4 linked regions of the Homo sapiens genome follow. The protein of the gene in region 2 purifies or fractionates together with the protein of the main gene of each other region. This does not show direct contact. Each region holds a gene or a part of one and is shown on either strand. Other genes may lie near its edges.

Region 1 (3,500 bases), on a different chromosome or scaffold from region 2:
TGAGTACCTGCAGTATACTGATCAATATGCTAAGTAGAGGGATACAGATGAAGTATATGGCAGCCCTCACATTTAAGGAATTTATAGCTGTATTGGGTAGCCAAGATCTAATAGGCAAAAAATAAAGAATAATGGAAGAACTTTTTTTAAAGGCTCTTTGAAAGCAAGAAGTATGCCTTATTTGTCTGTCACTCCAGGTATCTAGTACAATAATAGGCCCTCAATAAAGATTTATTAAGCTCTCTATAAAAGTAAATGCCATTTATAGTAGACTCAGTAAGAATTTGCCAAATGAAAAAAATGTTCATAAGTGTATGGTAGAGTCTGTCAATGGTGAAAAACAAGTGCTGGATGAGCATGGCAACACATGCCGAGGGGGTAGGACTTGTGTCTGGTGTCGAGGAGGCAGGACAGAAGGTGAGAGCAGTGCTAGCAGAGGCACAATGCCAGGAATAAACATGTGTTTTGCTTGGTGCTGTGAAGGCAGCTGTCTGAGTAAAGCACAGTATTTCTGCTGAGACATTCTGAGACACAGTTAACTAGGTACATTGGAACATGGGAACCATATATTGGAGGTTAGGAAAAGTTCAAGGTTAGTCCGCATTAGGATTCCTTTGTAGATTGTTTAGAAAGACAAAAGTAAGAACAGTTGATCTAACCCCACTGTATTAATGATAGATTTCCAGAGAAGAATTCAAACTGGCTGGTTTTATCCTTTTTTTAAGCCACTGAATAATGTGAAGAAAACTGAACCCTTGAAATATGCCCATGTGCACATAAATGCATAATAAGCATTTTGTTTGAAGTGTCAGAGGGTTTGTGGAATCTTCCCACCTTTTGAAGCTCATCCTTGGACCCCTAGTTAAGAACCCTTGATCCAGAAGCAAAAAAAACAGTTAAAGGGCTCTTGTAATTAATTGAAGAGAATCTAAATTAAAAACAGAGGCAGGGAAGTTAGAGTAAAAGATAGCATATTCCAATTGTGTGCATTTCAAAGGAAGAAACTTGGTGACAGGTTAAATATAAAGAAGCCCTACAGGATTTTAATGTTGAGGAGCTTAGGTGAATGAATGACGATGTTATCTGTAATAGGGGGAGATGGGAAAGGATAGCATAGAATTGCTGATCTTTCATGTCTACATTGACCCGTAATTTGGGATACTTGCTGTTTGTCATTTACTCTTTGCCATCTTCCAGAAAGCAAAGAAGTAGGTCTGGAGGAGATGGCCATTGTATAGATTTTGCTTTGTACAATTATATTTATAAAGCTGAGTCAGGCACTAGCAATCAAGTATATTTGCAGGTATGTTAAATTTGCTGTGAAACTTGAAATTCATGGGGTTTTTTCAGGTTTTAGAGCAATCTTGGCTGAACCTAAAAATAAAGCATCTGAATCCTCTGAACAAGATTATTATAGTAATATGAGGCAAGAAGCTTTGGGACATGAACCTAGAGTAAATATGTTTCCATTTGGTAAGTAGGCAACCTTTACTTTTAATAGTATAATGTAGTATATGCAATCTAATTTGGGTTTTAAAGAATACTCTGTTATTGGGCATCTATAAATTTCACCTAGTGAATAAAAATCTTAAATGTAGTTTTTTTATTCCTAAAATGTGGATTATGACTCCTAAAGTTCTTAATATTTAACACTTATTTTGTTTAACTGATTTCTAATTATAGTTTTCTCTGTTAAGTTACGCATTCCTCATATTAGAAACTATTACCACTGCCACTTTTTTGGGTGAGCTTCTGCCTCTATATAGCTGACCAAAAACTTAAAAAGACATATGTAGAGATCCTCTCCGTATGAGTCCTAAAATTTTGTTCCAGAACTACTGCTACTTTAAAATTAGGGCTACAGAAAGGAGAGGAATGGTAAAAGTAGAAGCTCTAATAGAAAAAGGGGAAAATGGGTAATGAAAGTAAGGCCTGTGAATGTTATTTGACGTAAACATTCAGGTAAAATACTTACCATATTTTTCAGTTTTGCATACTAAACTTCTTTCTGTGAAATTAGACTATGCATTTCTTCTTATATTTCTGCATTAAAGGTAGGGGAGTGGGGAGAGTTGTCTCTTCTTGTCATTAGTCCCATCGGTAGTTCTGATGACCAGAAGCGTACTACAAAATACAGTGCCTTTATTCAGTACAATGGACTCTGTTTTCTAGTATTTAAAATGTTAAGCGAATTGTTGGCTGTGTAGAAATCTAAAGATTTACTTTTTTTTATATTGTCGGAGAACAACAATCTGAATTTTCAAGTTTTGACAAGAATGATAGCCGAGGCCAGGAAGCAATCTCCAAACGCTTGTCAGTTGTATCAAGAGTTCCTTTCACTGAAGAACAGCTTTTCAGCATTTTTGATATAGTACCAGGATTGGAATATTGTGAAGTTCAACGAGATCCTTATTCAAATTATGGTAAAATAATGTTCACATTAAAAAATATATATATATGTATATATACACACACACACACACACACACACACACACACACACACACAGAGTTTTGTTAAAATGGCTTTTCTCTAGTGGCACTTTTATGTCAAGTACTGCTCATGTGACAGGAATTTTATCTTTCCTTTTTCTCTACTTTAGAATTCAAAATATGGTGATACCTTAATAAACAAAGCCCTGGAAATATATCTTCTTTTTACAAAATTGTTCACTGTAAAATATATTTTAACTCCCACAAAATATAACATTCTGTATTCCAGTTGCATAACAAAAAATACCTCTGGATAGAGCCTCTGTTTCTATGTACTCTTTTGGTTAATGCTAGACAAAGTTACGAAACTCACAAAATTTCCTCCTCATTCATCCCTAGATCTCTTTCTCTTAAATTTATACCCCTCCTTCCTTTCATTCCAAGCATCTAAATGCCCTGCTTCTCTCCTGCTTCTTCCAATTCTCAATGGAAGCAAGTCTCCAATATCAGCCATTTGAACTTATTAATTAGTTAATTGATTAAACCCATTATCTAACATTAGCTAACCCATCTTTGTGTTTTAAGCTTTTGATTTTATTAAGGCTCTTTGTTAATGGAGGCATTGTGGCATAATGGGAAAGTCTGGCATTCCATTTTGCATAGAATCGGGTACAAATCCCAGCAGTGACATGTAGCTTTGAGACCTTGGCAACTTGCTTATCCCCTCTGAGCCTCTCTTTCCTCGTATGTAAAATGGGATCATTGATACCTTCTTTGCCAGGGTTAGGTAAGAATTAGAGATAATATATGTAAAATAACTTAATGCAAGTTCTGGCATGTAATAGGGCACTCAGTAAATCTAAGGGGTTTTTTTTTCTTTGTTAGTGAGGGGTGGTAGAGAGAAATCATACTTGGTTGGCATCTCTTCCAGTTTTGTAAGGATACCTGATTTAGTCCTTTTAGAGTGGCATGGCTATTGACATAGAAGTAGTGACGTGAGTTTGGTCATGTGGACCAACAGGACTAAGGTAACTCCACCCTTCATACAGACACCCCCACATACTCACT
Region 2 (3,500 bases):
GCCCAGCGGCCCTACCAGATGCCTCAGCTCCCTGTGGCAGTTCCCCAGCAAGGGCTCAGGCTACAGCCTGCCAAGGCCCAGATTGTGAGAAGTAACCAGCCCAGCCCAGCCGTCCATTCAAGCACCGTCATCCCCACAGGAGCCTATGGCCAAGTAGCCCATTCAATGGCCAGTAAATACCAGTCTTCACAAGGAGACATAGGAGTCAGCCAGAGCCGGTTGGTTTATCAAGGGTCAATTGGGGGAATCGTAGGGGATGGAAGGCCGGTGCAGCATGTCCAAGCCAGCCTGAGTGCAGGCGCCATCTGTCAGCATGGAGGATTGACCAAAGAGGATCTTCCACAGCGACCTTCCTCAGCATACCGAGGTGGCGTGAGATACAGCCAGACACCACAGATCGGACGCAGCCAGTCAGCATCCTATTACCCAGTCTGTCACTCAAAACTAGATCTGGAGCGCTCCTCCAGCCAACTAGGTTCCCCTGATGTGTCGCATTTAATCAGAAGACCTATCAGTGTCAACCCTAACGAAATCAAACCGCACCCGCCAACTCCCAGGCCGTTGCTGCATTCCCAAAGTGTAGGCCTTCGCTTCTCTCCATCTAGCAATAGTATCTCCTCCACCTCCAACCTAACTCCGACCTTCCGGCCATCTTCTTCCATCCAGCAAATGGAGATCCCACTGAAACCTGCATATGAGAGGTCATGTGACGAGCTGTCGCCAGTGTCTCCAACTCAAGGAGGTTACCCCAGTGAGCCCACCCGATCCAGGACCACACCATTCATGGGGATCATAGATAAAACAGCACGGACTCAGCAGTACCCCCACCTCCACCAGCAGAATCGGACCTGGGCAGTGTCATCTGTGGACACCGTCCTCAGTCCCACGTCTCCAGGCAACCTGCCTCAGCCTGAGTCCTTCAGTCCACCATCATCCATCAGCAACATTGCCTTTTATAACAAAACCAACAATGCACAGAATGGCCATTTGCTGGAGGACGATTATTACAGCCCCCATGGGATGCTGGCTAACGGGTCTCGTGGAGACCTCTTGGAGCGAGTCAGCCAGGCCTCCTCCTATCCCGACGTGAAGGTAGCTCGGACTCTACCTGTGGCTCAGGCATACCAGGACAACCTGTACAGGCAGCTGTCCCGAGACTCTCGGCAAGGGCAGACATCCCCTATCAAACCAAAGAGACCGTTCGTGGAGTCTAATGTTTAAAAGACGTTTTGTTGGAGTGAGACCCATATGTTTTCACTGCACATTTTCAGGCTTGGTTTCCACATTCGAGGTAGTTCTCTGGCTTAATTTCTCATGTAGTTTCTGTGTGGTGTTCAGAGGTGGCAGCCCACATGCTGAAATCCTTTGCATGCAGCCGACTGGGAAGCGGCCTCCCGGGAGCCAGGACTTCAGTTTCTCTTGTCTGTGCCCAGCCACATGCTCTCTCCCTCTCTTCAGATGCCAACGAGGAGATTTTCGTGCTGTGTGCTTTAACCCAGGGAGATCAGACACACTGGTCAGCTTTTTCCAGGAGACAATCGCTTTCACTGATGTTCTTGTTGTGTAATTGTCTTTTTCCTTTTTTAAAAAATAAGGTGTTCTTGTTCGTTTTCTTCTAGAAACTTTAGAAAGAGTGCGATGCCCCTTTGCCTTTGCATCCTTAGCCAGTGTCACCCACACAGCCAGCCGCAGCGCATTCTCATGCTGTGGCCCCTCCCCAGACCGCCAGCGCCCTGCAGCCACCAGGTCTGCAGTGTGCATTAGGATTATTGCTGGTCTTCCTAGGGGGTAAAAGGATCAGAGAGAGAAGAATTAAGTGCTAAATTGGAAGAAAACCCCAATATAATTATGTAAAATGTCACTACATTGATTTTCCAAGAGGCATTGTAGGAACATGTCAAAAACAGCCAGCCCTTTAAATATTGCAGTCAGCCAAGGAAATTAGATGAGAATTGTGGCTATTAAGAGAATTCACTGAGAGTTATTCTCTAGATTTTTAGCCGACAATTAACCACTAAAAGCTGCTGCTTTTCCAGGGTGGGGGAGGGAATGAATACATAGAAAAACAAAAAAGATTGTTCTGGATTCTCAGTGAAAGGCTATAGGAAGTCTGTTCTGGAGACATCTACTTTTTAGATCCTGATACATCACTGAGTGTCATACTCCACTAAAAGGAAACTCTAACCGAAGGCTGGCTGGTGTGACAATCCCGTTAGTTGGATCTTCACCTACAGCCAGATTTTGTTCTAGTGGCCCTCTTCCTGTAAACCCAGATGGTGTCATACAGAAATTGTTTCTTTCAGAAGCAGATTGGAATCTCTTGGGACCATGAGACTGAGTCCCAATATTTCCACCCAGGGTCATGCCCGTTGTTGTCTACTTCCATTTTGAGATCTATAGTTTGATTATCTATTATTACAGGAACTGTTTCTTTTCTTTTTCTAGGAGTGTTTATGAGAGTGTGATATTTTAAAGTCAGACGCAGCAAAAACTGTTTCAGGGTGAAGAAAGACCCCTTTCAGCCCTGTTTTGCAGCCCTGGGTGGGGGCATGAGATAGACAGCAAGCTTCTGATCTTGAAGCTTGTCTAGAAGACACATCTTCTAGGTCTCGTGGTCATTTGGTAGGCTGACCTTTGAGTGAGCGAGGCCACTATTGAGTGGATAGCAAGAACATTGGAACCAAAGCCTCGGCACAGGCCTGGCACTGGCTGTACATCAGCTCTTACAACTAAACAACTCAACTAAGCAACTGAAACGAAACAAAGGAGCATTCGTTCTCTGTTGTTAGGAATCATTCTGCTCTGTTAGGGAAGGGCTGCAGGAAGGGCAGTTTCCTGAATAAAAATCTGGCTGCGACCAGTCCCATGTGTCTGGTAAGTAAGTAAGTAAGTAAGTGCCCTTTGAAGGGATCATTAAGACACAGGGAGCATGAACCTGAGATCAGAAGCATTTCTTTACTAATTTAGATTCTGCGAAATAGACGGACCTCTCCACCCCCAAACCTAAAACAGGCCAGGACTTGTCTCTGTGCTGAAAGCAAATAGCAAGACTAACTCAAGCCCCAGCCTCTTTCCACACTCCCTGATACCTAAGGACTGCTTTCTCAGCTAGACCAGGGTGGGCATCAGCGACGCCTTCTCAGCTAGACCAGGGTAGGCATCAGCGTCCTCTCTCCATCTCTATACCCCTCTCTCTCACATCAGGAAGATGAAATGTGTAGCTCTAGCGGCAACCTCTAGCCAGGAGCCCAGTGGCCTCTCAGATTGCTTTTTGGCCAGGTCTCAGCACTGCTGGCATCTTTACATCTTACTCCTTAAAACCGCCTCTCGCTGAGGAGCCACTGCATTTTGAAGAATTTCTCAGTGTCTGTCAGGAAAGTGCTCCTGCTCATTTGGAACGCCACACACCACCCGCACTCACCTGTCCAGGCGAATGAGCAGGTCCTGTAGCTTTACAAATATGCCGCTGATGCCGCTTCTCCCCAGGGTCTCTCAGTTTT
Region 3 (4,300 bases), on a different chromosome or scaffold from region 2:
AACCCAAAGTATATAAACATAGGCATATTCTAAAAACAATTGTCTTAATGTTTTTGTTCGCTAGGCAATAATTCCCACAATTCTCAGAAAGAAAAAAACAATATCCTTAACCAAAAAGTTATCAGAGGAGTTTCTACTTCTTAAACTTTTAAACAAACATATTTGCCCACTTATCATTTAAGCCCCATCAGGGCTTAAATGATAAGCCCTGTTGTGTCTCCCCTGTTGTGTCCCCAACCTCTAGGGAACTAACTGGCACCAAGTAGGTACCCAATACACATGTGCAGAATGAACTGAGTCTCTGGAAAAAGCTTAAGTGTTTTAAGTTGCAACAGGACAATTTCACCTATATATCCATCATTCACTACACTGAACTCTAATGACGTAATAAAAAGACTCGTACCAGGTATTTAAAAACACACACAAAAATATATTACTCACATATGTATCTGACTCACAAAGCCAGTTTTTCAGTTATGTTTTCTCTCAGGAAAATTTGTTGTATTCTTTCTAGTATTACTAATAAATATTAGAAAAGCACGTTGTGTTCTGCCAATGCAAGCATTATCTTCAAACTTACGTTGCAATCTGAAAAAATTTAGGCAAACTAAACAGTATTTCCAGAGTCCTGCCCCAAAGTATTACTAAAAGTCAAATTCCTTAATTCAATGAAAAGTGAAATAACGCACAGTGGCGCATGCCTGTAGTCCCAGCTTCTTGGGAGCCTGACACGGGAGGATCGCTTGAGCTCAGGAGTCTGAGACCAGCCTGAGCCAAATAAGGAGAACCTATCTTAAAAGGAAAAAAAAAAAAGTGGAATATAATGGGAAAAACGCACATCTTACCGTTCAAAAATTATGCTGAATTTTAAAAAGAAAAAATGAACTACGCTTAAAATAAATACACTGAAATTGTTTATCCCAAATGGCATTAATGCCCTTACATTTTGATATTTAGATCTGCCTCAAAAGACCTTTGAAGCTACATGATAAACTTCATGCCTACAAAGCTTGAGTTAGAGGTTATCTTTGTTAAAATAATACTGTTTGGATGCTCAGTTTTGGAAGTTTCCTCATAATTCTAAATTAAGATATTTAGCCGTAAGAGTAATACACTTATGTGTATGATTCTATAGCACTTGTTCTATAGCACTTGTACAAGCATAATGATCTTGAGTGGAACAGGCTTTATAATGAGCAAGCTATGATCTGTCTAACAGCGATACTCTGCAAACACGGGCTGAAAAGTTTCCTAAAATTCTGATGGTCATCTTCAAAGAAACTTGAACAGGAATCGATCTAATGGTGGACACAGAAAAATACCCAAGTCAACTCATGAACACTGGTAAGAAAAGGCTCTCTATAGCAACTAAAGTGTTGGGGAAAAAAAATCCAGGGAGCATAAACGATAAAGCTCAATTAACTGCTGCTTGTGTGATTCCACTTTATGGTCTTAAATACACAGTAGGCATTAGATATTTCTTTTGGGGTTTTTTTTTTTTAACAGAAATTTAGTATTTCAATTGCCCCTCCTCCACAGCTAACATCAGTGCCCTTTCTTCCTCCTCCCTTACCCCTCCCAACTCAAACAAATTAACATTTGTACTAGGTACCTCCTATCAGCTCGCAGCTTCTTCCCAAACACGCCCACGTACACTGAAACTGGCTTGCGTCTACACAACACACAGCTACAGGAAAAGAGCTTCGAGGGGGGAGCTGGGGCGGGGGGTTAATAATTCGCTCCGCACAGGTTTACGGCTATTTTCCAGAAACTAGTTCCTCGCTCGTGGCTCGCGTTTCTTCCAAATCACCTCAAAAGCACGGTGTTTATGAGCCTACCTAATCCGATACTGCAATGGAATTCCGGATATTTGCAGACAGATCTCCCGGCTTTGCAAGTGTTTGATGAGATACGTTCGGAATCTCCTTTTTTTTCTAGAGCCCGGTTCCAGGCCGTAGAGCAAGCCGACCTGGGGCTGCGGCCCCTGCCCCACACCCGGCCCGCGCGCCCGGCCCGAGGCCAGCACAGGACGCAGCCCCTCCGGGGCCGGGGCTGGCGGGGGCCGCTCGGGCTGCGGGCCGCTCTGCAACAGGTCACCCTGACCGCGACTCCGCGGGTTCGCGGGCGGCCAACTCTGCGGCCAGGCTTCTGGGCGCAGCCGCCAGGGCCAGGGGAGGGGGTGTGGCCCGGCTTCTGCTGGTCCTGGCTCCGAGGTCCGGGATCGGGCTCACCTGAAGGAAGACTGAGGCGCCGCTGGGCGCCAGAACAGAGCGGGCGGAGGCTGGGGGCTTCCGCCACCCAAGAGGGAGAGCGAGGCGGGTTCAAGGGGTCGCAGCGCCCCCGGCTTCAGGACGGCGCCCCCGAGCGGGGACCCCACGGCCGCTCCGACTCTGAGAACCCGCGGCCGAGGGAGGCGCGCCGCCCAGCGCCCTTCTCCCTCAGCCTCAGCCCCAGCTCCGCAGCCCCCTCCCTGCGCGCAGGGCGAGCAGCCCCGGGGCCCGCGGCCGGGAGAGCCACACTCCGCAGCGCCGCCGCCGCCATTCCCCGCGCCGCCCGGGGGGCGCCGCGTACCCACCCTCCCTCCCTCCCTCCCCCGCACCGCCCCGCGGCCTGAGCCCACCGACCTGTGCAGCCGCGGCCGTCGCCTCAGAGGACGGAAAGACGATGCCGGCCTCACGCTTCACCGCCACGGCCGCCGCCGCCTAGAGTAGCACTCGTCGACCCGAACAGTCACCGTCTCTCATTCAGCGCCCGCAGCAGCCGCCGCCGCCGCCGCCGCTGCCGCTCGGGGGAGGAGAGTGAGCTGGAACCACCCCGTCCGCGCCAGGGGTGGGGGACGAGAGCGGACCTGGCGGGGGCGCGCGCCAAGCGGGCGGGGCGGAGCCGCGCGCGCGCGCGCACCAACGGAGCGCGCTCGCGGGGGCTCTGAGAGCTGCAGCCGTCAGGGTCTTAACCTCGCGCTTCCCGCCCGCAGCTTTTCGGCCCCGCGGAGCCCAACTGCCGCCGGTGATCGGTGCCCGCAGCGCGCGCAGCCATCCGCAACCCCACCGCCCGGCGCCTGCTGAAAGGAGGGGCTCCCACCGGCCAAACAACGGGGGGGGGAAGGGGTAGGAGGATGGACAGGTGGGGCGTCCGCCACCGCCTGGCCACCCGCTCCCGGAACGCGGCCCTCTGTGAAATCCGCCGTGATGTCTGTGGCCTTCAGCGCCGGGCTCTTCACCTTTAAGGCCAGAGAACAAAGTCTGGAAGCACTTGGCCCCAAGATCAAATATCCAGCCCACGCCAGCGGTGTTTTTAGAAGTCACTGAGGACAAATGAGGGGGCTCCCAATGTGGAGAGTCACCCCACTGTCTTAGATAAGGTCATAAATTATGGTGATCAACATCCTCACACATTAAGATTCGGGAAGTGTTAGAAGTAGGCCTTTGTAAGATGTTACGCAGGGTACTACCCTTGACTTAAGGAGCAAATGACAGAAATTGGGCGGAAAGGTGTTGTTTCAGAGTCTACTAAATGGGTGGCCTACTTAAAGCTAGCACCATTTGATGCAGTGTGACTGTTAACGGAAGGTTTTAAGTGAGCCGCCTTTGTATCTGCTGTCATTAGACCATTTGGAAATGGATAATTATTTGATGATCTGCAGTTCTTTCTCTAGGCAATGTGCAGTAGAATGTGGAAAGAATACTATGTACCAGCATTAAGTGTAAAACATGAAAGGACCAATAATTCACTATTCCCATTTGGTTTCTTTCTTCCCTTTAATAACCGCTAAACAGAACTGATTAATCTTGAACGTTGAAGATTGCTAATTATTTCCTCCTTTGATTGCCTTCTGTCATAGCCCTTTTACTCTAGTTGGGGACGCTAGAATGCCCTTCAACCTCCTTCTCTCAAATAGGGTTACTTTAAAGCACCCCAACGCAAAGTTAAGTCAAAAAGAAAAACAGCGAGGATAGGCAACAAAGTTCGTAGTGTTTCATTTTTATTCCATTTTACTTTCAAAGAAAGTCTTGAATCATGACGAAATCACTAGAAGAAGTAGAGCAATCAAAAGAAGAAAAAAAGCGTTCCCCCCCACCCAATATTTCAAATGACAAGAGTCCAAAAAAGAAAAGAAAAAGGAAGATGATTGGTAAAAAGGAGGGAAGTGCATTATGTATACAGAAAGTTTTCGCATAGATGTTAGTTGCTTCAAGTCCCAAATAAACAACAACTAAATGAATTAGCACTTGGAGGAAAAACCCCTTCCAGTTATTGAGTTGGGTAAATGTTTAGTCTTCTTAAAGTGTTACTAAGAGAT
Region 4 (3,500 bases), on a different chromosome or scaffold from region 2:
GCACACCACCATGCCTGGCTCACTTTTGTATTTTCAATAGAGACAAGGTTTCGCCATGTCGGCCAGGCTGGTCTCAAACTCCTGACCTCAGGTGATCCGCCCACCTCGGCCTCCCAAAATGCTGGGATTACAGGTGTGAGCCACTGTGCCCGGTCAAATTTCTCTGCTTTAGAAACTTGCCTGTCATTGGCTTATGATTGTATTTCTGGAGGATTCGCCATGTCTTAGGTTATGTGTAGAACATATAATAGACCTGCTTTTTCTGCAGGGAAGATGGTTGAGGATATGTCTGAGAATATATAACAACATGAGTGATTGAAAGTCAGGAAAGCTAAGTTTATGCCAAATTGTCTTTAAAGTATTAGGTGGTATAGTTAAGATGACAGACAACATTACCATATAGAACAACATTTGAAGTTTATTATGTTGTAACTCTCGATCATGTATCTTTTTTAAAAATGTGTTTAGATCCGATGCAGTCCATATTAAACAGCTTAGAACAACAGCATGAAGAAGAAAAACGATCTGCACTGGAGCGCCAGAGGCTTATGTATGAGCACGAATTGGAGCAGCTCCGGAGAAGGCTGTCTCCTGAGAAGCAGAACTGCCGGAGCATGGACAGGTTTTCTTTCCACTCGCCCAGCGCTCAGCAACGCTTAAGACAGTGGGCTGAGGAGAGGTAGGCGGCACAGAGGGGCCTGTTAACTTTATAGCTCAGGCTTGCCACCTCTAACACACCTAGGGAAAGTGTCAAATGGGAACATTAAGATGGTGCTTACAAAAGAATTATGTTAAAAGATAAGTGTTAACAGCCAAGAACCACTTTGCATTTGTTTTTAAAAGGGGAATTGCCCATTTATATTGCATTATTTAAAACTGTTGGTGTTAGGTGTTGCTCCATTTTCAGTTGGTATGGCTTTTGGATTTGGATATAGAAGTACACTTGATCATTGTATTATGCTTTAGGTTCTGAAGCTTGGGTAGATGATTTTTAGAAAAACAAAGTTGGTTATCTGGACTGATTAGCTCAGGTAGGTAAAGCATGGTGCTGATGAGATGCAGATTGCAAATTTGATCTCTGTATGGGCTAATTAGCATTGCATTGAAATGCCTTATCCCATGGTTGCAGACTGTACTTCACTAACCTCATACTATTTAAAGTTTGGTCTGCAGGCAGGCAGCTTCCCTTTTACCTGGAGATTGATAGAAATGTAGGATTTCAGGCCTCCACCTCAGACCTGCTGAGACAGAATCTTGAGTTGATGAAGATCCCCTGGTGATCTGCATACAGGGGCACTGCTGTTATCTACAGCCGGCTTGCTGTGTGGCTGCTTTCCAGTGCTTATCGTGTAGTTGAGGTTCAAGCGTGTGCATGGGTCAGTGTCAGCAACACAGTCCCTGCGTGCAGACGACCACGGAAAAAGCTCAATTCACACTTTGGCAATGATGTACTACCACTGTATGATTTTCTGACTAGCTGCTTTGTGTTAATCTCTTCCCTACCTCTGCCGCTTCTTTATTTTTTTTTAGAGAAGCAACGTTGAATAACAGCCTGATGAGGCTGAGGGAACAAATTGTTAAGGCCAATCTATTGGTGAGAGAAGCTAATTACATTGCTGAGGAGCTGGATAAAAGAACAGAATACAAAGTTACCCTACAGATTCCAGCCTCCAGCCTGGATGCCAACAGGAAGGTGAGGTTGCCGTTCCTTGAAAAAAACAAAGATCTCATTGGATAAGATCGCCTGATATTTCCTGGTGTTATTTAAGCTTCAGATCCCTGTCTGTGCCTGCCCCAAGTCCAGATCCTTTGTCCTCCATGCTTTTGGGTAGAATTGACTTCCTTTTCCATTCTCTACCTTTGAGTGTATGTATATTTTATCTGCTAGGGGAATATACTCTGCATCTCACCTGGCCCTGACAGTTCATTTCACTCAACTTTCTTCCTTCAAATCTGTTTAAATTCTTTCTTAGAAGTCTTTTCTGATTAATCTTCCCCGAATGTCTTTTTTTCCTTCCTTATGCTACCACTCTACAACCCCTTCTCCACAAGTTAGGTGTTCATTTTGCTTATGTTATTTTCTACTTGGAATAGCTTGCTCTGTAAAACTGCTCATTAGTTGTGTCATGGTGTCATGTATATATTCAGGATCATACTTTTTTTGGTATAATAAATTTAATAAAATGTAGGGGGAAAGTCCCATCACAATCTTCTATCTTTGCCATTCAGTTGGGTTTTTTTCCTTCATCTTTTTTTTTTTTTTTTGAGGTTCTTTTCTAGCTCTTGATCACATTCATACATAATTTTTGATGGATTAGGTAGAATTTTCTATTCAGATGAATTTTTTGTGGATCCGTGTGTTCTGTTTAGCCTGCGGTAGTCAACACAGCAAAACTTTAATCAATCCATCTTGGATATTCTATTTTTCTTTTTTTTGTTTGAGAGGGAGTCTTACTCTGTCACCCAGGCTGGAATGCAGTGGTGTGATCCTGGGTCACTGCAGCATCTGCCTCCTGGGTTCAAGCGATTCTCCTGCCTCAGCCTCCTCAGTATCTGGGATTACAGGTGTGTGCCACCACGCTGGACTAATTTTTGTATTTTTAGTAGAGATGGGGTTTTGCTGTGTTGGCCAGGCTGGTCTCAAACTCCTGACCTCAAGTGATCCACCTGCTTTGGCCTCCCAAAGTGCTGGGATTACAGGCGGATATTATTCTAATTTGATAGCAAGGATTACATCTTTCCCTATGACATCATAGCATCAAGGTCAGCGTTTTGTACAGGGTTAGATATTTGGCAAATATGATTCTTAGTATTTTGAGAAAGGTATTGTAAATATGATATGATCGTTACTTTACAGATCATTGTTTTTGTATACTCTGTGTGTATTTTGAAAATTTTTACTTAATTAGAACACTAGTATTTGTAGGGCAAAGTCTGGGTACAGTAGGACTCACCAAAAACCGAAGAGGAAGGCCAGTCACAAGGAGAAGGTTCAGGGCCTAGTTTCTCCTTGAAGGCTGAGAAGTACAAGATCCTCTTTGATTTTATAGTGTATAAGTTGAAAAAAGCAGAAACCTGAAAGATTTTTCCCCAGTAAGCATGACCGCAGCCCTTTTCTCCGTAACCTCTTTTGGGCTTTGTTGAAAGGTGTGGCTCTGCACTGGGGCAGCCATGTCAACGCCTGGAAGAACTCATGTCGCCTGGCATCTCTCCTTAGTTAGGCTGACTCTGTAGTCTTTCGTGCAACAGACTATTTTTTGGTATTTGAAAAGTTGTTTAAAGTCCTGTCCATTCTGTGAACTCTTCTCTGGTGAATTTTTTTCTTATTTCCAGTTTTGCAAGAGGGCTAAGTTATGGTAGCTGCACCATATTGCCCGTTGCTATTATAGTCCCAGGTCCAGCATTCTCCCCCAGGAAAGCCACTACCCACACAGGTCACAAATGGGATTTTTGTATTTATTCACTGGCTGGCTGAATATAAGGTAGGAGGGCCTTTAATT

What was found.
Region 1: the proteins of TANC2 (region 2) and RBM45 purify together in Homo sapiens (affinity purification with mass spectrometry; one large-scale study listed by BioGRID and IntAct). This does not show direct contact.
Region 3: the proteins of TANC2 (region 2) and RALGPS2 purify together in Homo sapiens (affinity purification with mass spectrometry, with the first as the bait; one large-scale study listed by BioGRID). This does not show direct contact.
Region 4: the proteins of TANC2 (region 2) and KIF13B purify together in Homo sapiens (affinity purification with mass spectrometry, with the first as the bait; one large-scale study listed by BioGRID). This does not show direct contact.

What each region holds. Positions count from the first base shown.
Region 1 is NC_000002.12:178,118,937-178,122,436, forward strand, and holds part of RBM45 (RNA-binding protein 45), read left to right. Parts: intron 1-1,350; coding exon 1,351-1,473; intron 1,474-2,237; coding exon of another isoform or gene 2,238-2,243; coding exon 2,244-2,423; intron 2,424-3,500. UniProt on the Homo sapiens protein: RNA-binding protein with binding specificity for poly(C). May play an important role in neural development.
Region 2 is NC_000017.11:63,420,735-63,424,234, forward strand, and holds part of TANC2 (protein TANC2), read left to right. Parts: coding exon 1-1,221; 3' UTR 1,222-3,500. UniProt on the Homo sapiens protein: Scaffolding protein in the dendritic spines which acts as immobile postsynaptic posts able to recruit KIF1A-driven dense core vesicles to dendritic spines.
Region 3 is NC_000001.11:178,723,744-178,728,043, reverse strand, and holds the start of RALGPS2 (ras-specific guanine nucleotide-releasing factor RalGPS2), read right to left. Parts: upstream 2,801-4,300; 5' UTR 2,625-2,800; exon of another isoform or gene 1,760-2,624; intron 1,299-1,759; exon of another isoform or gene 1-1,298. UniProt on the Homo sapiens protein: Guanine nucleotide exchange factor for the small GTPase RALA. May be involved in cytoskeletal organization. May also be involved in the stimulation of transcription in a Ras-independent fashion.
Region 4 is NC_000008.11:29,144,571-29,148,070, reverse strand, and holds part of KIF13B (kinesin-like protein KIF13B), read left to right. Parts: intron 1-468; coding exon 469-679; intron 680-1,530; coding exon 1,531-1,693; intron 1,694-3,500. UniProt on the Homo sapiens protein: Involved in reorganization of the cortical cytoskeleton. Regulates axon formation by promoting the formation of extra axons. May be functionally important for the intracellular trafficking of MAGUKs and associated protein complexes.